Linked DNA regions of Homo sapiens. The protein of the gene in region 1 interacts with the protein of each later gene in a biochemical or structural test. Each region holds a gene or a part of one and is shown in the gene's direction. Other genes may lie near its edges. The genes, in order: HGF, SDC2 and CLEC3B.

What was found.
Region 2: the proteins of HGF (region 1) and SDC2 form a complex in vitro, tested with the Homo sapiens proteins (one study listed by BioGRID).
Region 3: the proteins of HGF (region 1) and CLEC3B form a complex in vitro, tested with the Homo sapiens proteins (one study listed by BioGRID).

What each region holds. Positions count from the first base shown.
Region 1 is NC_000007.14:81,703,969-81,711,319, reverse strand, and holds part of HGF (hepatocyte growth factor isoform 1 preproprotein), read left to right. Parts: intron 1-1,076; coding exon 1,077-1,173; intron 1,174-3,955; coding exon 3,956-4,030; intron 4,031-4,892; coding exon 4,893-5,033; intron 5,034-5,566; coding exon 5,567-5,673; intron 5,674-5,784; coding exon 5,785-5,930; intron 5,931-7,351. UniProt on the Homo sapiens protein: Potent mitogen for mature parenchymal hepatocyte cells, seems to be a hepatotrophic factor, and acts as a growth factor for a broad spectrum of tissues and cell types.
Region 2 is NC_000008.11:96,489,588-96,497,073, forward strand, and holds the start of SDC2 (syndecan-2 precursor), read left to right. Parts: upstream 1-4,225; 5' UTR 4,226-4,684; coding exon 4,685-4,744; intron 4,745-7,486. UniProt on the Homo sapiens protein: Cell surface proteoglycan which regulates dendritic arbor morphogenesis.
Region 3 is NC_000003.12:45,029,058-45,036,408, forward strand, and holds the end of CLEC3B (tetranectin), read left to right. Parts: intron 1-1,085; exon of another isoform or gene 1,086-1,180; intron 1,181-1,769; coding exon 1,770-1,868; intron 1,869-6,466; coding exon 6,467-6,867; 3' UTR 6,868-7,014; downstream 7,015-7,351. UniProt on the Homo sapiens protein: Tetranectin binds to plasminogen and to isolated kringle 4. May be involved in the packaging of molecules destined for exocytosis. Plays a role in retinal function.

The sequences.
Region 1 (7,351 bases):
TGTAAAGGAGTTTCAAAGGCAACTGCATACTGAATATAAAAATTCAATTCTCTTGCAAAAAATCTATAAGATGGTATATGTGATTTCGAAAAGAGTGTTTATATTTACTTTTAATTTGGGGCACAATGCGTATAATGGACCACCTTTATATATACCATGATTTAATAAAATTAGGATGCTGAATTCAGGAGAATGAAACCTGAAAGTTGGAAAGTTATTCAGTGCCTCTATTCTACTCTATTTGTAAACTTCTCTGCATGCCCTACAGTCAAGTGGGCACAAGATGACACAGTCTATGATATTCAGTTAATCCTCAGTTTAAGAATCTGTTGGGGGCCACTTGTATTTTATTTTCACATATCTCTTGAGCTGAAGGAAGTTACTCAAGTGTTTTTGATTTAGAATACCACCTGCTGTGCCCCAGGCTCAGGAAGCAAATGGATATCTATTCTAGACCATGGGCAGAAGTAGAGGGGATAAGGCGAGGAGCACAGAGGAGGGTCAGGAAAACATTTACTCCAATAAATTTTATATTATGTCTTTGGACATAATGATTTGAAAATAATAATTATATCATTTGGATATGATTTCAATAAATCAAATGTTGGTAAGACATATTGAATAAATCTACAATCTAACTGTACAAATTCAGAAGTAATATCCAAGTAAAGCTTGGTTTTGTTTTTTTCACTGAATCTATTGATTTCTACTGACCATTAGAAATAACCATTGTAAATAACTTTGGTTTATTTTATGTTGAGGGTGGTGAGGGATTAGACCTGAGGAGCTTGGTCTTAGTGTATTGTGAGCAAAGCCATTGTCACTCTCATGGCAATCCTGTCTGCTTTGAGTTTATTTGTTTTTCTGAGTTACTCAACTTCTTAGATGAAGATGGCAAGTGTTAAGGACTTAATATAATGCTGCGGTCATATTAAACTTCTCTTTCACCAAACTGTTCTTTGGACACAATAAGAATAGTTACATTTGTGTAATTATCATTGCATTTAAGAAAACTAAGAGGCACTGATTATTTCAAATTCTTATTTTAAAAAATGTTATGTTTGGTCCTGTTTCAGATCCCGTAATATCTTGTGCCAAAACGAAACAATTGCGAGTTGTAAATGGGATTCCAACACGAACAAACATAGGATGGATGGTTAGTTTGAGATACAGGTAATTATTAATAGATGCAAGTCATGCATATCCAGAATATGTACAAGAGAGTCCTATTCCCAGAAATATGGACACATGTGGTCCTGAAGGTTGTACCCTCCACAGGGCACCTGGGTGAGGCAGTAAAAGAGGAAGCTGATCACATCTGCTTGCCAGACTGTAAGCTCTGGACTATAATTTGTGCCTCCAGAGGTAGTGCCTTTTTAAATCTTCACAAAGGTCCCATATGTGTTGGCAATGTCCCTGATTCTAAGAGACACTTTGGTTCCGATTAAGCAAAATACGGAGGACCTATTGAAACCTTAATATTACCATAGTAGTTATGATACTTGTTATTAAATTTCCAATCTAGGATATTATGGGTTTATTTTCTAATATGTTTATGCATGATCATGTCAAAACATTTATATTTGTTTTTAATTTCTGACTTTTTCCTTGTCAATCAAATGAAAAATGGTAATTTTAAATTCTAGAGCATTTTATCTTTACAAAAAGGCCAATAGTTAAATAGTCTTGATATTATAATAATCAGTGGGGATACAAAATTCTTGACATGTCTATTTCTCAATGCTCTTAAGAATCAATGACATATTCTACATAAAATCACTTTGCAAATCATATTGTTAGAGAAAATTATGCTTAATAATTATGTCATAAGAATTAAATACTGAAAATATAAGTTAACTTAAAATCTGATCTTACAACTTTCATATACTACATATATTATTCTGTATGTTAATTGGAATGCTAAAATATTTATGTCTTTGGCTATCTCTATCAGAACCTTACCATGCAACACACCCCAAGATACATTGAATTTGAACCACATTGTCTCTTGTTTTCTAGATACCTCACGTTTCTTCCTCTAAGCCTTTATGCTGTTGTTCCCACAACACACTGTGGCTTTCTTCCTCCATGTTTTATGCCTGAAAATTCCTTCTCCTTCAAATTTCAACCTAAATATCCCCTCTTTTAGAATACCCTCCTGTTCCCTTACCGCTAGCCTCCTAGAGTAGAGAAAAAGAATGTCTGTTACTATTATTAAATCACAGTGACATTAGAATAGAGACAACTTGAAACAGAAGTCCTTTTATGAATAAACCAATTATTGGAAAGCAAGAGTTTATATAATTTGATATATATGACTTTAGATGACCACAATGTTGTAGGAGATGGCCTAAAGTTCTTTTTTTAGTATACCCTTTTCTCAAGGAATGGCTTATCAGATTTTATAAATATTTATGCCAATAATTGTAGTATAGCTGTCCTAGGTGTGTAGTACTAAAATAGAATTGTGAAACTAACCAGAATATTAAAGCTGAGTGTGCAGTATGAGGATTTAGTAAAGACTTTAGAATTCTGTTGGAGTGTTTAATTTTCTTAATTATAGAAAATCTTTCAAGAGGCTGGGTGTGGTGGCTCACACCTGTAATCCCAGCAGTTTGGGAGGCTGAGGCAGGTGTATCACTTGAGGTCAGGAGTTCAAGAGCAGCCTGGCCAACGTGGTAAAACCCATCTCTACTAAAAATACAAAAATTAGCCGGGCATGGTGGCACATGCCTGTAATCCCAGCTACTGAGCGAGACTCTGTCTCAAAAAAAAAAAAAAAAAAAAAAAAAAAAGAAGGAAGGAAGGAGAAATCTTTCAATAATCCACATTTGAGTTAATTGGTGATTCTTTGCTTATCTTATAACCCCAGAGGATAAAAGAAGACATATATTAATACTTCTAAGTTATTTTTTCCAGTAAGAGAATTCACAAGGATACTGCTTTGGTCATCTCCATTGTTGGAAAAGCAGGTGAAGCTATTTTTCCATCAGATTAGAGTACTGTAAATTTTTAGTTTTTTTCCTTTTTAAATCCAAGTTCTTAGCAACAACAGCTGCTTAGTTATTCTTCCAAAACTCATACTGAAAAGGATAGAAATTAAAAGTCAATATATATTCTTATCCTCCTGTGTGGTAAAGGCCATAAATAACTGTGGTCTCAGTCTGGGAATCTTCTAGTATTACCCTCTGAAGCACTGAACATCTGTACTCTTTGGAAATGTAAATTATGAAAAGTTGTGCTTTTTCCATGTCTCTGCCAAAAAAAATGGATTTACAGATTTTGGATATCATCAAAAAAATGTACTAGTACTCATCATACTCTGCAAATATTTTACAATTTCCTAAATGATTTGCCTTGCAAAATTGTTTTACTTTAGAGATGAAATATTATATTCCTGATCTTATACTGGACAAAGTAATTTATTCAGATTCAGTTACATTTTATGTTAATATATCAAAACTACATAATGGTAGTAGAAGAAGGAAATAGTGCACGAATAAAATTGCTACCACTAGATGGTTTTCAGGGTTCAAACAAGAACTCAACTTTGCATTTTTAATAAGCAAACACTGAATTTAAAATAGATTCACATTTTTAAGAAATTATAATTATCCTATATTTGTAGCACATACGTTCCTCACAAGGATAGATGCACATACACACGAATATGTGTGTTCGGGATGGCTATTGATGTGTAATAACTTTAGACTACACAAAAGTCAAATTGATTTCATAAATTTATAGTCACATTATGAAAAAAAAGCTAACGCTACAATCACCAAATATCACCCTTCAGATAAAAGAACTTCTCATTTTATTCCAGTTGGGTTAATTTCTATATTTTCCTCTGCAGTGTATTTATTTTTAACAAATGGAGCCACAGGCTTTGCATTAATTGGCAGTCACTCTTTCTGCACAGATGTTACTTGTTTCTCTTTCCTCTTTTTCACAGAAATAAACATATCTGCGGAGGATCATTGATAAAGGAGAGTTGGGTTCTTACTGCACGACAGTGTTTCCCTTCTCGGTAAAGTGTTTTTAAAACTAGTATTATTTTGAGCCTTTAAAATGTGTATGTCTTCCACTTTGCTCTTAAGGTTATAATATGTATTCATTTTACAGAGATTCACAAATGGGGTGAACAAATTATTTCATTTTTAGAATTTGGCTTACAAAACTTACTTTGACTTCACAGATATTTACAAGACACTACTTCAGTTCACCTCTTTTCACAATTAGTGTTACCCTCAGTTGGGGAAAATTTTGCTAGAATTATGTAAATGTTTTATATCCCAACTTTCTACTTGTACCCTGTATTTCTAGATATAATTCTTTTTTTTTTCTAAATTGTCAATAGGCTTTTTTCAGTCCTCACTACTTCTTTCTCCTGTAGAGTCAGCCTCAGGATCATCCTGGGCATAATTTTCAATGAAAATTAGCCTAAGGAAAAGATAAAGAGGCAGCATTTGTAAACTTCCTTCCTGCTTCTCAGCAAGGTCACTTTGATTTTGTTTGTAGAAAACTTCAACCCCTGTTACCAAACCAAATATATACACAGCTGACATAAACAAAGCAAAATTTGCAGAAAAAATTATAATTCATGTAAAGTGCTTTACCTGAGCATTTTTCACAAGTGACTTCTAGCAAGCATAAGCAAGTTTCTAAAATAGTCATTTAGAATCTCAGCAATTTAAAGCCTCTTTCTGCTTATGTATGTTTGTAGTATTCAGAATCTGCCATAACAAATGTGTTGTTCTTTATTATACTATGAATCAAATTTTAAATTTAGGTTATGTGCCTTAATAGTCTAAAATAACAATAGATAGGAATAATACTACAGAATTTGGAATTATTATGTTTTACATTTAAATTTTTTTCCTTCAAAACAGAGACTTGAAAGATTATGAAGCTTGGCTTGGAATTCATGATGTCCACGGAAGAGGAGATGAGAAATGCAAACAGGTTCTCAATGTTTCCCAGCTGGTATATGGCCCTGAAGGATCAGATCTGGTTTTAATGAAGCTTGCCAGGTTAGTTACTTTAGAAGATTTTGTATTTTTCACCTGGACAAGAATTGTTGGAGCATTTTCTTCAGCTGTGTGGCAGTTCGTTCTCTCTCATACAGATGCATTATAAACATATGTTACATGCTGTATATATATGTATATATGCGTGCGTTTGGGTCTCTCTGTGAGTATAGAGAGAAAGGTATTTGCAAAACTGTAAAAAAATGAATAACTAACATTGGGCCAACAGTCTGATCAGTCTGTTTTAAAATGGAAACTCAGCAGTTATTTGATAACTTTCAAATGTAAAATAATTATTTTAAAAAATAGCATTGACCATTTATTCTTAAATATTGGCAAATACATGACTCATTTCTTTACTACCTATTCCAAATGTCATCATTACATTTGGACATTCCCACCTTTTTTTTTTTTTTTTTAAGAAACAGGACTTCATTCTCTGTAAATGCCATATTAAACATGAACACTACATTTAATATGTTAATTTTGTGTTGAATCCAGTTGAGAGTACTTACCATTGTATTTTGTGTTTTCAGGCCTGCTGTCCTGGATGATTTTGTTAGTACGATTGATTTACCTAATTATGGATGCACAATTCCTGAAAAGACCAGTTGCAGTGTTTATGGCTGGGGCTACACTGGATGTAAGCTAGTTTTCAAAAGATGAGGCCATATTTATTTTATTTTAAAAAGAACACATTTGTCTTTGTTTCTTACTTTTCTCACCTTATTGTATGTTTTTTGCATCAATCTAGTGATCAACTATGATGGCCTATTACGAGTGGCACATCTCTATATAATGGGAAATGAGAAATGCAGCCAGCATCATCGAGGGAAGGTGACTCTGAATGAGTCTGAAATATGTGCTGGGGCTGAAAAGATTGGATCAGGACCATGTGAGGTAAAAAGGAAGTTCTTTAATAAGGAGTATGTGATTCATAGCTTAGTGTTTCATGTTTATTTTTTTCTGTTTATTTTTCTCAAATCAAAAATATTGTATACCAACCTATTCTAGGAAAGAGGAATTGGGAAAATTAACTCTGTAATATTCTGCATTTCTTTCAACTAAGCAGTGAGATAATCAATGTTTTATTAGCAGCAAACTATGATGACATTTGTCACTCAAAAAATAATAAGTGTGTAGAGCCGGAACTCCAAGGGAGAGCTATTCAAATGAGAAGTATCCAAATCAGTTAGATCAATGGTTTGCATTTTTCTAATGTTTTTCTAAATTTATTTTATCTTCCCAAATTATCTCGAAGTGAACTCCACTAATTATATCATTCAGAGATGCCTGGCTTTAAACTTTTAAATCTCTTTTTGGGTAAGCTGTTCCCTCTTTTGCTCTCTCGCTCTGTGTATGTGTTTAAACAGATTCTATTTTAAAAAGCCTAAAGGTCAAAGTTTGTGACTTTACGAGCTTGGACATTTCATTTGTGAGGCAACTGTTATTTCGGCTTGGCAATGTTCCTATCCCTATTTTACATAGACAAGCTGTTAAACTGTTAGTTTAGTTAGATTTTGAATGTGAGAGACATGTTCTCCAAGCTTCAGGGCTGTGGGATTGTGGAATGCTGTGTGTGGCAAAAGATGAAATGAGTTCAATGATAGTGAAATGTCCTTTGATATGTAGGAAAATGCATGCTGTAAGTATGGAACATAAATATGTATTGAAATGCAAGTGTTATACACCTTGCTCTGAGATTTTATTTCTGAAAAGAAGAGAAAATGTTTACTGTTTACTGAGTTTTTAGAACTGCTTAAAAATGATATGGTTAGAAACAGATTATATGTTTATAACCAGTTTCAAATTTGTTGCCTTTCTAGTAAATCATGAACAATGAAACCATTGTTCATTATAACAAGGGAACATTTACTAGGAGAAATAAATGACTATACTTTAAAAAGAAAAAGCAATAAGCATCCGGGAAACACAGAAGTTTCTAACTAGACCCAACCTTACAGATCATCTAATTATTGTCATTACCAAAACCAATTTGACAACTGCTTTTGAAGAATAGCCTTTAATTTGGATTATCACCTATATATTTTTCACTTCCCTCTTCAGTTTGAATTATTCATATCTGTATACTATATATGTTGTTTTTAACTTTATTGATAAGACTTGACCTCAAGTAGATTCCGCCACTTCTCAAAAATGTATTTATCCTCCAGAATGTTTTTAAAAATATATATGTCACTGACATTTAAATCAAGGTAATTTAGCCACTGAAATAAATTTGAAGGAGATATCTCCCAAATGTTTGTATAATAGCAGTAACATCATATTTAGTGAAAGTCTCCAGAGTGAATTACTTTGAG
Region 2 (7,486 bases), on another chromosome or scaffold:
ACCTGAGTTGCAGCAGGTGATCCATACATATTTGTTGACTGAATGTCAAATTTTGCCAGCCTTTAAAGAACCATACCACACTGTTAGAAAAACTGACATGAAGGGCCAAGTGTGATGGCTCACACCTGTAATCTCAGACCCTTCGGAGGCCAAGGGGGAGGATCACTTGAGTCTAGGAGTTCGATGCCAGCCTGGGCAATATAGTGAGCCCTCGTCTCTAAAAAAAGAAAAAAAGAAAAAAAAGAAAAAGAAAAACAGAAGTAACTGTTTTATCTCCTGTCTTATTTTATGTATTATACACTTCCTTGATTTTCCTGTGTCCTCCTATCCAAAACTGTAACAATTTTGTTCAACATTAGCACCATATCATTTTATGAAACTCAAATCAGCCAACTTCTCTGGGAAGGGGTTGATGGAGGTGAATAAAGAGAACAGTGGAAAGTTTGAGGCTGAAAATAGACTTTTTTTTTTTTTTTTTGGAGACAGAGTCTCGCTCTGTTGCCCAGGCTGGAGTACGGTGGCATGATCTCGGCTCACTGCAACTTCTACCTCCCGGGTTCAAGCAATTCTCCTGCCTCAGCCTCCCAAGTAGCTGCGACTACAGGTGCCCGCCATCACACCTGGCTAATTTTTGTTGTGTTGTTCTTAGTAAAGACGGGGTTTCACCGTGTTGCCCAGGCTGGTCTTGAACTTCTGAGCTCAGGCAATCTGCCTGCCTCGGCCTCCCAAAGTGCTAGGATTACAGGTGTGAGCCACCGCGCCAGGCCTGAAAATAGATTTTTTTGGATTGCCTGTAGATTTTGGTCATGGCCTCAGCTCACTTGCCAGTATTAGCGATGGCTCATTAATGGTTGGCTGGATGGATATCCTATTCCTCTCAGCTTCTATCATCTTTCAAGTGAATTTCATAAGAGCCAATCCTACCAAATTGATTTCTAGCCTGGACTCCTGGTAACAGTCCAGGGGGTGCCAAGTGGAAGAACAACCGAGAACAACAGAATGGCATCTTTTTTTTCCGCTATCCCCTACTCTGACAACTCACCTCAGGACAGAACACCTGTTTATCCACGGTTGTAATGTGGTATCATTTGTTACCGTAGTGACAGAGTCCGATGTGTCAGTTTAGGTTAAAAACTGTCTTTAGTAGCTTTCATTTCTATTTTTTCACTTGTCTGGTTCTCTTTATTTTTTATTTGTTTTTACATGTTTGCATCTTAATCTCTATGTTGTTTATTTTTAATATTTTCTCCTGAGACTCTTGAAGTGTGGTAATTATTCTTTTAGCAATCAATGAAGCTATTTGGGAAGTGATTGGTTAAGCTGTGCCCCTCAAAGCATAGCCCTCAAAACCTGAGGACTTGAAGTATATTTGCAAAGAACCTTTGGTTCTAGTCACAAGCTATACTTAGTGAATTAGATATACTACACAAAATTCTGCCAAATTTTAGTCCCCATCAGTTTTTTAAACATTTCCAATTAGCAAAACACACAAACAGGCCTACATCGTTTGCGAATTTAGACAAATCCTGACTAATACCAGCGGACCTCCCCTGACTTCTGTCCCCATCCCCACTCAGCATGGGTGACCTCTTTGTAGCCAGCTCTTGTGTAAGTGCTTTTTATACTGTCAGATTATCCTTCTTGCCACAGCTGTTAATAAATCTGAACACAAGATCTTGAATATTTGTTTTCATCTCCTTAATATTGTGTCACTCAAAATGGTACCAATTCCCTTATTATATATACTCTCAATGGAGTATTTATCATCTTTAAAGAAACAAGTCACTGAGCATCTCATCAACACCAAGAGCCTTGGGGTGTGCCTTCAGGGCAGCAAACAGATAATATCCCTTCAACACGTGTATCCACTTATTCATTTTTTATCACTGTCTGCCCAAGCTGAATCAGAGAGCATTCACCACGCTTCTTGTTACATGGGTGCCCCAGTAAACAGCAATAACTGTGAGAACCAGCAAATCAGTGGAGTGCACTTCCTGTTTTACTGGAATTCCAATTTATTTGATGAATACTTAACTGTTGGGGACAATGGAGGTGTGGCCTTGCCTGAAGGCTGGCGAGTAGACGAGGCCTCTTATGAGGACAGAGCTGGTATTTTATGGCTCTTTGCATGTATTTTGCATTGCTGCTTTTCCTTTGGAGGCCTTTTTAAGAAGTCTCCCCATCTCATGAACCTCTTCAACCCACAGACTCCATCTTAAAAATAAGGGCACTAGGCTGGTGGCTCACGTGTCTAATCCCAGGACTTTGGGAGGCTGAGGCAGGCAGATCACTTGAGCCCAAGAGTTTGAGACCAGCCTGGGCAACAATGGAAAACCCTGTCTCTATAAAAAACACAAAAATTAGCTGGTGTGGTGGCCTGTGCCTGTAGTCCCAGCTACTTGGTAAGCTGAGGTGGGAGGACTGCTTGAGCCTGAGAGGTAGAGGCTACAGTGCAGGCCACTGCACTCCAGCCTGGGCAAGAATGAGACCCTGTCTCAAAAAAAAAAAAAAAAAAAAAAAAGGCTGTGGTTCATTCTTTCAAAAGCTAAGTGGAGCCCACATTGGCACAGATGCCAGCTACAGTGTCTGTGGAATCAGAAGCATCATCTGATGTTACAACTTCTGGCCTATTGCTCTTTTTCTTCTTTCTCCTTTGCCTACTCTTCTATTTCTCCATATTACCTTTTTGTTGGCCAATGCCTTAGACTTGCTCATGAGCATTTGTAGGTTTGGTAGCTGGCACACAAAACCAAAGGAATAAGTGTCTCCAAGTTTGAGTTGTAATTCTCCAGTTAAATTTCTTTCTTTGAGATTTATTACAGTAATAGGTTACTAAGACATTTAATTCTCACTGAGGGTATGACTGTATTTTATTCTAATACTGAGTTGAAAAATTACCATGGCCTCATATCTATATATCTACATTGGTGTATTTTAAAGGCTCACAACTCTTATACGGTATAAATTGAGCTTTAGAGCAAAATTTATTCAAGATAATATTTATCATGTGTCTTTATGTACCAGGAATGAGAATACAATGGTGAACAGACAGAAAAGTCTCTGGTTTCCTGTAGTGGGCATTCCAGGAGCAGAATGGCGTCATAATTCATTTACTCTATAAGTCAGAGAGAAAAATGATGGCACGAACTGCAAGGGATTTGTGTGTAAAATTTGTGACAGTAAGAAAAAGAAACTGGAAGGGAATACGCATTTGCCATGTTCTATAATATGCCACAGACATTGTAACAAAATATTTCATGTCAGCTACTTCCATTTAGGAAATACATGTTCATTATTTTCTTCAAACTAAGAATTACTTTATCCCTCTTTTCTTTGAAGTTATCTTAAATCTGTTATTATTCAGGGTCTCTATCCAACTTCTCATCAAATTACCCTATTTGTAGCTTCCAAACGTTAACACCTATCTGCTAAAATGGAGCCTATAAAAAGCCTTAGTGGCATAAACTGTGTGTGAGGGAGAAATGGTATTTAAGCCCTTAATGAAGTTAGGAGCTTTCAAACTGTTGCACTTTGGGTTTACAGGATCCTTCCTCCATGTCCCTTTTTTGGGGGTGCGGAAGGATTTGGGAGAATGGGAAACACTCTCACTATATATTTATTACATTAATTATCTTCTCTTTTAAAATGCAATTTTCATGAACTGGCGATTTATGAACACTTCACATTGCTTGAAAGCATCTTACACTTTTTTTTTCCCTCAACTCACAAAGCAGTTTCTTTCTACTGGTCGAATTCTCAAGGCAGAAAAGCTACATACGTCTCTCGTTTCTTCACTAATTGTTCTCTAGAAAAGGGAAAGTGAAGAAGGGAAAGAGAAAAGACAACGGGGAAGAAAAGAGCATAGAGGAGAGAGGAAAAGTGGGGAGAGAAAGGAAGAAAAGGACTGAGAAAACGCAGGAGCCCTGGCTTGCCGGTGAGCAGAGCCGGCGCAGCCACAGCGCGGAGCCGCGGCGCCCACTGGTCCTCGGAGCTGCCAATCGGCGTGTAATCCTGTAGGAATTTCTCCCGGGTTTATCTGGGAGTCACACTGCCGCCTCCTCTCCCCAGTCGCCCAGGGGAGCCCGGAGAAGCAGGCTCAGGAGGGAGGGAGCCAGAGGAAAAGAAGAGGAGGAGAAGGAGGAGGACCCGGGGAGGGAGGCGCGGCGCGGGAGGAGGAGGGGCGCAGCCGCGGAGCCAGTGGCCCCGCTTGGACGCGCTGCTCTCCAGATACCCCCGGAGCTCCAGCCGCGCGGATCGCGCGCTCCCGCCGCTCTGCCCCTAAACTTCTGCCGTAGCTCCCTTTCAAGCCAGCGAATTTATTCCTTAAAACCAGAAACTGAACCTCGGCACGGGAAAGGAGTCCGCGGAGGAGCAAAACCACAGCAGAGCAAGAAGAGCTTCAGAGAGCAGCCTTCCCGGAGCACCAACTCCGTGTCGGGAGTGCAGAAACCAACAAGTGAGAGGGCGCCGCGTTCCCGGGGCGCAGCTGCGGGCGGCGGGAGCAGGCGCAGGAGGAGGAAGCGAGCGCCCCCGAGCCCCGAGCCCGAGTCCCCGAGCCTGAGCCGCAATCGCTGCGGTACTCTGCTCCGGATTCGTGTGCGCGGGCTGCGCCGAGCGCTGGGCAGGAGGCTTCGTTTTGCCCTGGTTGCAAGCAGCGGCTGGGAGCAGCCGGTCCCTGGGGAATATGCGGCGCGCGTGGATCCTGCTCACCTTGGGCTTGGTGGCCTGCGTGTCGGCGGAGTCGGTGAGTGGGCCAGGCGGAGGATGCGCGCGCCGTTTAGGGTGTTTGAAGCTACGAGAGGAGCCCGCAGGGAATAGGGGAGCGCCACCTGGGGAACCCCCAGTCCCCAAGTATACACCGGAGATCCGCTGGGACAAATGCGCTCGTCCGGTCACCCTTTCCCCCTCTTCCCTTCCTCAGAAAAGCGCTGCTCGCTGGCGTTACCCCGCGGTCCGCGGGAATGGGGGCACCGAGAATTGCGGTTTGGTCTAGCCGCAGAGGCCCCTGAAGTCACTCCCAACTTCTTCGCCCTCGGCGGGTCTTGCTGCGTGGTCTGGGAAGGACGGAGGGGAAAGGGTGGCAGGAGGGGGGAGCCTGGGTCGGGCCCGCGAGGGAACGGCTCCACTCCGCGCGCTCCTCGAGACCAGGGATGACCTGGAAACTTCGGGGTCCCTTCCTCCGCACACCATCCCCCCCGCGCCAGCTTTCCTGTTTGACTGCATGCAAGTTCTGGGGAGATGGGGGCCAGATTTAAGAGACCCGCGAGTGTCCAGAGAGAAAAGTTTGCAAAAGTTCTTTTGTTTGATGCTCCCTGCGGCTAGGGCGAGGTAACCGACACTACGTGGAATCGCAGTAGGCGATCCCTCAAGGGGATACTGGGGGAGGCACGGAACGCGTCCGAAAATGCTGGGACGCCGGCCACTGGATTCCCAGTCCTGCGGCGACCCCCTCCTCGTTGAGGGGTGGAGGTTGCACCGCGGGGCGTCAGGGACGGGAGGACATTTTCATAGGAGTTACACGGGAGTGCCGCAAGCAGGGCGAGGCGGGGTACGTGTGACACGGCGCTCGGCTTCGGGTCGCCTGGCCGCTGGGGGACAGAGGCTTCCCTCCCGCCACGCTCGCCCTCTCTGGCCCTGGCGGGGCGCTTCTGGGGCCGGGAGGAGTCTCGTCTCCGGCGGAGCGCCTGCCGGCACCCAGCTTCCCTCCCCCGCCCTGGCGGTGGGAACTTGATTTCTCCTTTTGGTCGCGCTTCGGGGGCTGGAGCTTGTTTCCCCACGTCGCCCAATGAGCGCCCTCTAAAGGGAACTGCCTCCTTGGCCTCCTCTCGTCCGCAGCTGCCTCCACCTGGGCGCCAGGAGCTCTGTCGGGCCAGGTGGAAGCTTGAGCACCCCAGATTTCGTCTGCAGCCTCAGTGCCCTCTGGGGTCTCAGGGAGTGCGGCTGTTTCTGGCCCTTCTGGTTCCCCACGTCCTCTCCCTTTGCCATTTAATAACGTGTCAATTTCTAATTAATTGAATGGTCTTTTCAAAGACAAATTATATCATCTTAAGGTCTTTTAGGTAGTTTTATGAGTTTGAGTCTCCCTCCCCCCCTTTTTTGTGCTGAGGCTAATTTAGGACTGGGAAACCTCTTTGGCATCGAGCGGCAGATGGACATTTTTAATCAGTGTGGGAGCCTCTGTGTGTGCTAGCAGATCCCCATACGTTCTTTGTGGTTGGAGAGCATGTAGAATTGGAAACTGTACAGACTACATGAGTATTTTGGGTGCTCAGGTTGTAAAATAGAACTCCCAGCCTTATCAGTGTTTCCCTTTGGCAAATGATGGTTTAATCCGTTGGTATTAGTTATCTCCCAGCCAGTTAGGATGAACTTTGGCTCTTTGTACACCAAAAGGCAGCAGTTCTCTTGTTTATTTCAGATGAGCGTTGTTGCTCCTCTTGTTGCAAAACAGGGCAAAGGGACTTCATCTAATAAATTTCAAGAGCCTGCCTAAAAAACTGCACATGGTTAAGGAGGCCCTTTTTTTTTGCTGAGTCTTATTCATGGATTTGCTAGGAAATGTTACTGTTTTGGGATTCTGGAGAAAGAATGTTTCTGTCTTCTGCTCCTCTGGGTTTTTGCATAAATCTACCAGTGCTCCTTAAGGAAGTTTTTTGGCCGAACTATATACCTGTCCTCCCCGGTGACAGCTTTCCCCTGAACTGTGTATCTTTGGGGTTCTAATATTTCTCAATTTGAACCAGAACTGGATGCTTTCCGAGTGAACTGCTTCATTGTGATAGACACTGTTTTCAGTAATTGGAAAATCATCCAAAAAGGGTGATTAGATATTTATAAAATGTCAACTTAGAGACTAGCAGAGAATCTTTGTTAGGCAGTGAGTCAGTCTTTCTAAATAGAAGCTGTTTCAAGGCCCAGAATGGCTAACAGTCCATTTAAATTACTTTTCAGTCTCCGTTTGTTTCATGTATAGCAGCAAAAATATAAATGAAGTCAAAAGACTGAATTTAAAAAAAAATTAGCAATTACAGAATATTATTTCCAGGACTTTGCATTTTAATTTGAAAACTGCAACTGTTTCCTGGGATTTAGAAGTAGTGATTTGGGTTTAAAGTCTCCCTTTAAAGGAAGAAAGGAAAACTGCCTACAGTTAGTGAATTCTTAAGTTTTATACTTAGCTCTGGGGGTAAAAAAGAGGTTCTCAGGAACTAAGGCTCAAAACTGCCTATGAAAAGGAACTGGTAGCTGTTCCTTTATGGATCCTGGAGGCAGCTGGGAAAGCCTGTTCCTAGTGATCCATTCATACTTTCCACTGGCAGGTTAGGACTTTGGCTGCGGAGCACCAGGCAAGGGGAAAATCTGACTGAGTGTGGCAGTAGTGATATGCTGCTGGTTTTCTGTCCATTTTGTACATGACTGTTTATCTTTAGAAATAATATATTGCAGACTGCTATAAACACATAATTTGAACTGGAAATATGTTTAA
Region 3 (7,351 bases), on another chromosome or scaffold:
AGAAGGAACCTGAGGCTCAGAGAGTGGGCCAGCACAAAGGCCTCCTGACTCTGCCCAGGGCCGTAGAGACACCTACTCCCACAGCTTCCTCAGGTGGAGCTAATGAGAGTAGCTTCCTGTACCTTGGACAGTCCCTGGAGGAAACTTTGCACATATGGGCACCTTGGTGCAAATTACAAAAGGTACCTCCTCTAAACTGACAAATTATAGAAAGGCATCTCTTTTTCTGGTCTGACCCACTCTAGCCAGGGCAAGGCTTAGGAGACAAATGGGCCTTCATGTGTCCCTCAGCAGAATGCCCTTCTTCAGTGCCCCCTTGCACAGCCTCACATGGCACCCTATGCTGGTACATCACGTGACTGGGTACAGTGCTGCTATAACTGGTGGAGGCAGTCTCTGTGTGAGGCACACATGACCTCAGGCTGGTTTGCCAGCCCCAAACTCTCCCTTTTTTTGCCTTGCTCATCAGGGTGTTTTTGCTCCAGTTTGGTAAGTTACATCGCTAATTTCTATATACACAACCATGTGTCTTGCCTGTGATTCTTCTGCAAAGGCACCTTATGGGTGGACGAAGGCTCTGATCTCACTCTTTGTGAGTGTGGAATGTATGCAGACACAGCCAAATGGACCATTAAAGTGTTTCCCCACCCACTTCCCCAAGCTGAGTGCAGCCTTTCCTGAAGCCCTGGTGTTTCAGAAAGACCAGGGTCCGCCCCAGGAGCTCTAAACTTACACACACATAGAAATATGCTTCCCGGCACCCTCAACTTACACACACATAGAAATATGCTTCCCCGCCTTCCCCTGCTGACTCTTACATGACTGGCTGCCAGCAGGACAGCTCCTGTTAGGAATCCGTTTGTGTGCCATGGGGAAGGTGGGGAAGAGCATGGCTTCAGAGCCATGTGCACCTGGGTTCCAGGCCAGCCCTGCCAGCTGGGGCTCTGCCATCCTCGGCCAGTTGGTTTAGGGCAGCCTGGGTTTCCTCATGGTGAAATGCTGGTGGTACAGAATGACACGTTACCTGTGTCATAGGGTTGATTATGAGCATCACATGGGGTGACATGTAGAACGGCTTAGCCCAGAGCCTGGCCTCCTCTGTAAGAGTGGAAAACCTGGGTTCCTTCTGCCCTCATCTTATTAGTAGCTGTGATGGGCACACACTCAGCCAAGCACTGAGGTAGGCAGCTCTGCGTTTCAGTTCTCTTAGTCTTCTCCAGAGTCCTAGGAGGTGGGGCTGTCATCATCCACTTCATACATGAGGGAACCAAATCCAGAGAGGCTGAGCAGCTCGCCCAGGCCACCCGTGTCTGTGGCACCTCCAAGCCCTGCATATGCGTGCCCCAGGCTGGAGTGCCTGCTGGTCTGTGTCGCATTCCTCCAGCCTGGGGAAGTGAACCTGGGGGCTTCTTGAGGGCTCCTGCTGTGCTTCCTGTGCTGTTCTTCCCTGGAGCTGAAAAGGTAGCTGGGTGGTGGGGGATCACTGAAGCCTGTGCCTACACCCTCACCCCTGCCTCTGCTAATCCCAGCCCCATCTGATCCCCAGCAACAATCCCAAACAAATGCAGCACAGGAGCAAGTGAAGGATGGGCCCCCTGGCAGAAGTCACAAGTGGTTAATTAGACTACCACCAGCAAGGATAGAGAGAGAGAAAGTTTCCCAAGATATCAAGGTTGAGGGGAGTCTTTTCCTCTCATCCCTCTGCAGCTAAGGTAGGATCCTTCCTGCTCAGTCCCTGCCCCACCCTGACATATTTCCTCCTGCTTCAGATGTTGTGAACACAAAGATGTTTGAGGAGCTCAAGAGCCGTCTGGACACCCTGGCCCAGGAGGTGGCCCTGCTGAAGGAGCAGCAGGCCCTGCAGACGGGTGAGTGCAGGCAGTAGCCTCTCTGGGCAGGAGCGTCTGAGAGAAGGGCCCAGGCCAGCAGCCAGCAATGCTCTTCTCGCCTCCGTTCAGCATCAGGGTCCTGGCTCCATTAGTCCAGGCCTATGGGTGAAGGCACCAGGTTCAGGGAGCCCCACCTCTTTCTCTTGGGGAGATCCCCTGACACGTGTCTGCAAAACTCACCTGGATGTGTACGGCCAAATCTCTGGCCACAGCTGGGTGGTGTGGAAGTGGGGATGTCCCAAGAGGACAAAAAATTCTCCAACAAGAATCCACTACTGCCCACCAGAAGTGACCCTGGAGCGCTCGATGGGGCAGAGGTAGTGGCCCACCCTAGCAAAGCTCCCAGGAGCCCCTCACTCAGCTGGCCTCTGCAGCCCCAGAGAGCTCCACACTCCTGTGTGTCAGCAGCTTTGCTGACCCTGTCTCTCTTAATCGTAACTCTGCTGAGGTGGGATTTGTCAGCTCCATTTTAAAGATGAGCTGTCAGCTCCATGAAATGTCAGCTCCATTTTAAAGATGTGTCAGCAGCAACTGAGGCATAGACAGGTCCTGAACCTGGCTCATACTCACCTCGTTGGTTAGTTGACTCGTGGAAGAGCAAGAGTTGAATGGAGGCAGGCTGCCCAGTGCCAAGCTGGGCCTTGGTGTTCCTGGCTCTGCACTAGCCAGCTGAGGGAGGGTGCACAGAATCACCAAGAACAGGGCCCAGGCGCATGGTAAGGTCATGCCCTCTGGCCAGCATACCTGGCAGCCTATTGTTTCTCACTCCCCATGTTCCTGTCATATAGTCTGCATTTTCCACATACCTCCGATTTACCTACCTTTATATGACCTCACCTTCCATTCTATGGAGAACACAGACTCACAATACTGATGACTATTTACATGTGAGCCCACTACATTCTGGCACTGTTCTTGATGCTTGATGCAGACTCACAATACTGATGACTATTTACATGTGAGCCCACTACATTCTGGCACTGTTCTTGATGCTTGATGCACGTTAACTCATTCACAGCACACCCGTGCAGTGGTCCTGTTACTACATCCTCACCCTTATTTTCCACCGAGAAGGACCTTGTGACAGCCGAAAGGAGCAGAGCCTCACTTAGCTCTGCTATGCTGCCCCTCGAGTTATCAGCTGGGAAATCACCTTGACTCCTCAGCAAATCTATAAACCACCCTGTGTCCACAGCCACTCTCTTACCTGTTGCTTTTGTGACCAAGGCCCATCCATCTGCAAGGCCTTCCCTTCCCCGCCTGCCTCCTCAGAAACCCCCAACAGCCTTCTCACCGGATGGTTTTACACACTCCCTCCCATTCATATGCTTTCCTTCAGCATTCACACTGCCATCCTTCTGCACTCCCACCACAGGGCCTTTGCATGTGCTGTTTGGGCAACCTGAATTGCTCCCCCAAGATCCACCTAATAAATGCCTCCAGCATTATCTTCTCAGGAGTCACTAATCCCTCATCTCAATCAGCTCCTCAGTTATAAGCTCTCCCAGAACAGTGTCCTTTCTTTTATCACACTGACTGCAGTCTGTAATGATACACTCATTTCCTGATTTGTGTCTGCTGCCTCCACTAGACTATAGTAAGCCCTGAGAACACAAGGGCCATGTTTGCTTTTCATTGCCCTTGTCTCTTCCACTACCCTGCCCAGCATAGTGCCTGCCACATAGCAACACTCAGTCAATCTCTGTTGAAGGAAGGACAAACATGTAACTTTGGACAGCTTGCTTGGCATGGCAGGTAGGAAGAGAGTGCTCGAGAAAGGGAGCATCTCCAGAGGTGTTTTTGACTTCATGTAATAGGAAACCTATCAGTGGCTTAAACAAAAAGTAAGTCTGCAAGTAGGTAGTTATAAGTTTTTGTTCAGAAGTTTCACCTCATGGTCTTCAGATGGCTGCCCCAACTCCAGGCATCATGAGTGCATTCAAGGCAAGAAGGAGGAAGAGTAGCCCAACCACATCTGTCTCATTTATAGGGAACGTAGTCTTCCACTTCCATCTCATTGACAAGAAATCTATCATATGGCCACCTGCAGCTTTAAGAACATCTGAGAATGCAAGAATGTAGCTTTTCCAGCCTCTATAGTGGAGGTGGACAAGAGAGAAGGGATTTGGAGGCAACAGTGCCTGGCACAGCGGGTATGTTTAGAATGAGCCCAGTGCCACTCTGAGCCTCAGTTTCCTCATCTGTAAGGTAGGCAGGGTAAACTCTAAGGTCTCTCTCATGTCTAAGCTCTGTGCTGTGCAAAGTCAATGTAACCCAGGCATCAACTGCCACCTGGGGTGAGGTAATGAGGTGGGGACCTCCCTGAAAAAAGTTCATGACATATGGAGGCCCAAAGCATGACATATGAAAGCCCCCATGTCTGCTGATTTCTAGGAAGCTGCTGGGCTTCTTGGGGCCTTCTCCTGTTCATTGTCCTCACAACCCAAAGATCACCTTTTCAATAAACCCACCCAAAGCATTGCAGAGCTCTGTTGACCTAACCAGAGTTGAAGGAATCAGGGGGCAACCTTTCCCTCCTCCAACCAGCATACACATGGGAGGTTCCCACCTGGTACATCTCTGCCAGGCACAAGGAGGCAGAGGTGATGCAGCCAGGGCCCTGCTCCCTGGGAACCTCAATATATTCATGGAATCACTTGAGCCCTTGAAAGCTGTGTAGGAATCAGAGAAGATAAAGAGGGTTGATTCCAAGCAGATGGCAGGGCAGGAGCAGAGGTGTGGAGGACTAGCATAAATCGACAGGATCATGAATAGACCAGAGCAACAAAATGTTGGCAGCAATGATAGTATCACGAGAAGTAGCATTGACTGAGGACTACCTATGTGTTGGAGGGAGGTTCAGGTGAGGGTCCTAGGAAGCAACTCTGAGATGGAGTTTAACCCACAGGAGACTTATCAGGAGATACCCTCAGGATCAACCCCTGTGCTAGGGAAGGGATGGAAGGAAGCAGGAGTGGGCAGAAGGAGAAGTCGAGCTGTACTGTGGTGCCACGAAAGCCTCAGCTGACTTCAGGAGCCCTGATGACGGGATGACCCTTCGGCACTGTCCTGAGTCGGGGCAAGAGGGCTTATGGGTCAGTCTTGGGTGTAGGCTGCTCTAGGGAGGGGCACGGCCTTGGAAGAGATGGCTGTCTTCTGCTGAGGCAGTCCCTGCAGGAGGCTGAAAGCTGAGGACTTTCTTCCTGCAGCATTCCTGGCAGCCAGGGCAGTGAATCCTTCATCCCCAACAAAAGTCTAGGTAGCACGTCAGTGTTACCAGCAGGAAGGAAAGGCAATGAAGGCCGCTTGGCTAAGCTGTAGGATAGCACGAGGTAGGACAGCTGACTTGGGGCAGAGTCTGTGGGTAGACACCTCTGTAATGCTTCAGGCCCCATGTTTAAAGTCGGTTGTGGTGTCAGATGCCCATGGGGACACTGGGATGCTGTCCATTGATATTTGTTGAGTGAAATGGAAGTAACTGAGTGGGAATGGATAGAGGGGAGTGCAGACATCCCCCAAAGTGGTGGGGTCACCAGCAAGAGGACAAATGCAGACATACACCTGTCTGTCAAGATATTCCTTTCCACAGAAATCTTTAGTAAAAGGTGAACGATTTATACGATCTCAGGAGAAATCAGAGTATGTCTAGATATTTCAGCTAGAAATCAAGCTGAAAATGCAAACTGCAAAACAAAAATAGATTTTATCCTCCTAACTTGACCAAATATGTGCCTTCATCACAACCTTTGGGGCCAGGCTCAAACTGAGAATTTGTGGACACCTCAGAGTCCCTTGCCTGATCGCCGGCCTCTGACCACAGCCTGTGCCCAGCACTTCCTGTCTTCTCTCTTGCAGTCTCAGCTCTATCCACTCAGCCCCACCCTACCAGCCCTCAGGAGAACTGACCCTGCAAAAGGCACTTGGCAGGCCCTGGAAGCTTGCTTGGGCTGTTTGGGTAGGGATTTGGGGCCCTGGGTACATGAAGTGTGGCCTAGGCTGTAGGTGGGCAGGTGCCCTGGCCCTGCAAGCTGCTTGATCTTAGGGAGGGGCATGGAGGAAGGAGAACCAGAGCAGGTGGCTGTGGCTGGGCTCCCTGGGAAGCTGACTCTGAGACAGAGCTAATTTGTTAGGGTGAGCCCTAGGAGCCACACATGTGGGGGCGGGGGGAAGAGGAAGTGGGCAGAGGGAGAGCTGAGCTGCAGTGCAGGCACCAGGCCAGCCTCTGTGACCCAAGGAGATGGGGTGGGTAAAGGCCAGAAATGACTGAGGTGGAGGCCTGGGAAGGGGTGTCAGCTGGGGCTGGGTGCTTCTGTAGCACAAGGGCTGCCTTTTCTCCCAGCCGCGGGAGCACCAAGACCTCCTGAGTGGGGATCTGGATCTGTACATTAGTGGCCACCACAGCCAGGTCCTCAAAGTGCATGAACCATCAGGACCCCTTTTGCCTGGGTCTAAGGGGCTGTCAGGACTGATGGGATAAACGGGATGGGATGGAGGACGGTGGGCTTGGCCTGGGCGGTTGGCTCTTTGCCTGGGGAACAGGGGGACCTTCGGTGACAGCCATTTCTCCCCACTCCCAGTCTGCCTGAAGGGGACCAAGGTGCACATGAAATGCTTTCTGGCCTTCACCCAGACGAAGACCTTCCACGAGGCCAGCGAGGACTGCATCTCGCGCGGGGGCACCCTGGGCACCCCTCAGACTGGCTCGGAGAACGACGCCCTGTATGAGTACCTGCGCCAGAGCGTGGGCAACGAGGCCGAGATCTGGCTGGGCCTCAACGACATGGCGGCCGAGGGCACCTGGGTGGACATGACCGGCGCCCGCATCGCCTACAAGAACTGGGAGACTGAGATCACCGCGCAACCCGATGGCGGCAAGACCGAGAACTGCGCGGTCCTGTCAGGCGCGGCCAACGGCAAGTGGTTCGACAAGCGCTGCCGCGATCAGCTGCCCTACATCTGCCAGTTCGGGATCGTGTAGCCGGCGGGGCGGGGGCCGTGGGGGGCCTGGAGGAGGGCAGGGGCCGCGGGAGGCCGGGAGGAGGGTGGGGACCTTGCAGCCCCCATCCTCTCCGTGCGCTTGGAGCCTCTTTTTGCAAATAAAGTTGGTGCAGCTTCGCGGAGAGGAGAGGCGCTGCAGTCTGTGCTGTGTCCGCGGGGCGGGGAGGAGGTCCCAGGAGCCGGTTCGAAAGCTCCCTCCGTGATGAAGTAGGCGAGAAGGGAGGAGGTGAAGGAGGGCGAGCTGAGCACACGCGCTTCATGCCACAGGAGGGTGGGAATGAGCGGAGGACTGAGGAGAGGAAGGAGGGAAAGAATAGGGAGATGAAAACGCCCCGGTCTGCTGCTAAGCACAGCACAGTTACCAAAGCCAGGAAACTAACACTGACACGATATTTTATTTACGTTACAGCTCTATTCAAAGCTCCAGGCTTCTTTTTGTAGAATCGTTTCCATCTGCTGGAATC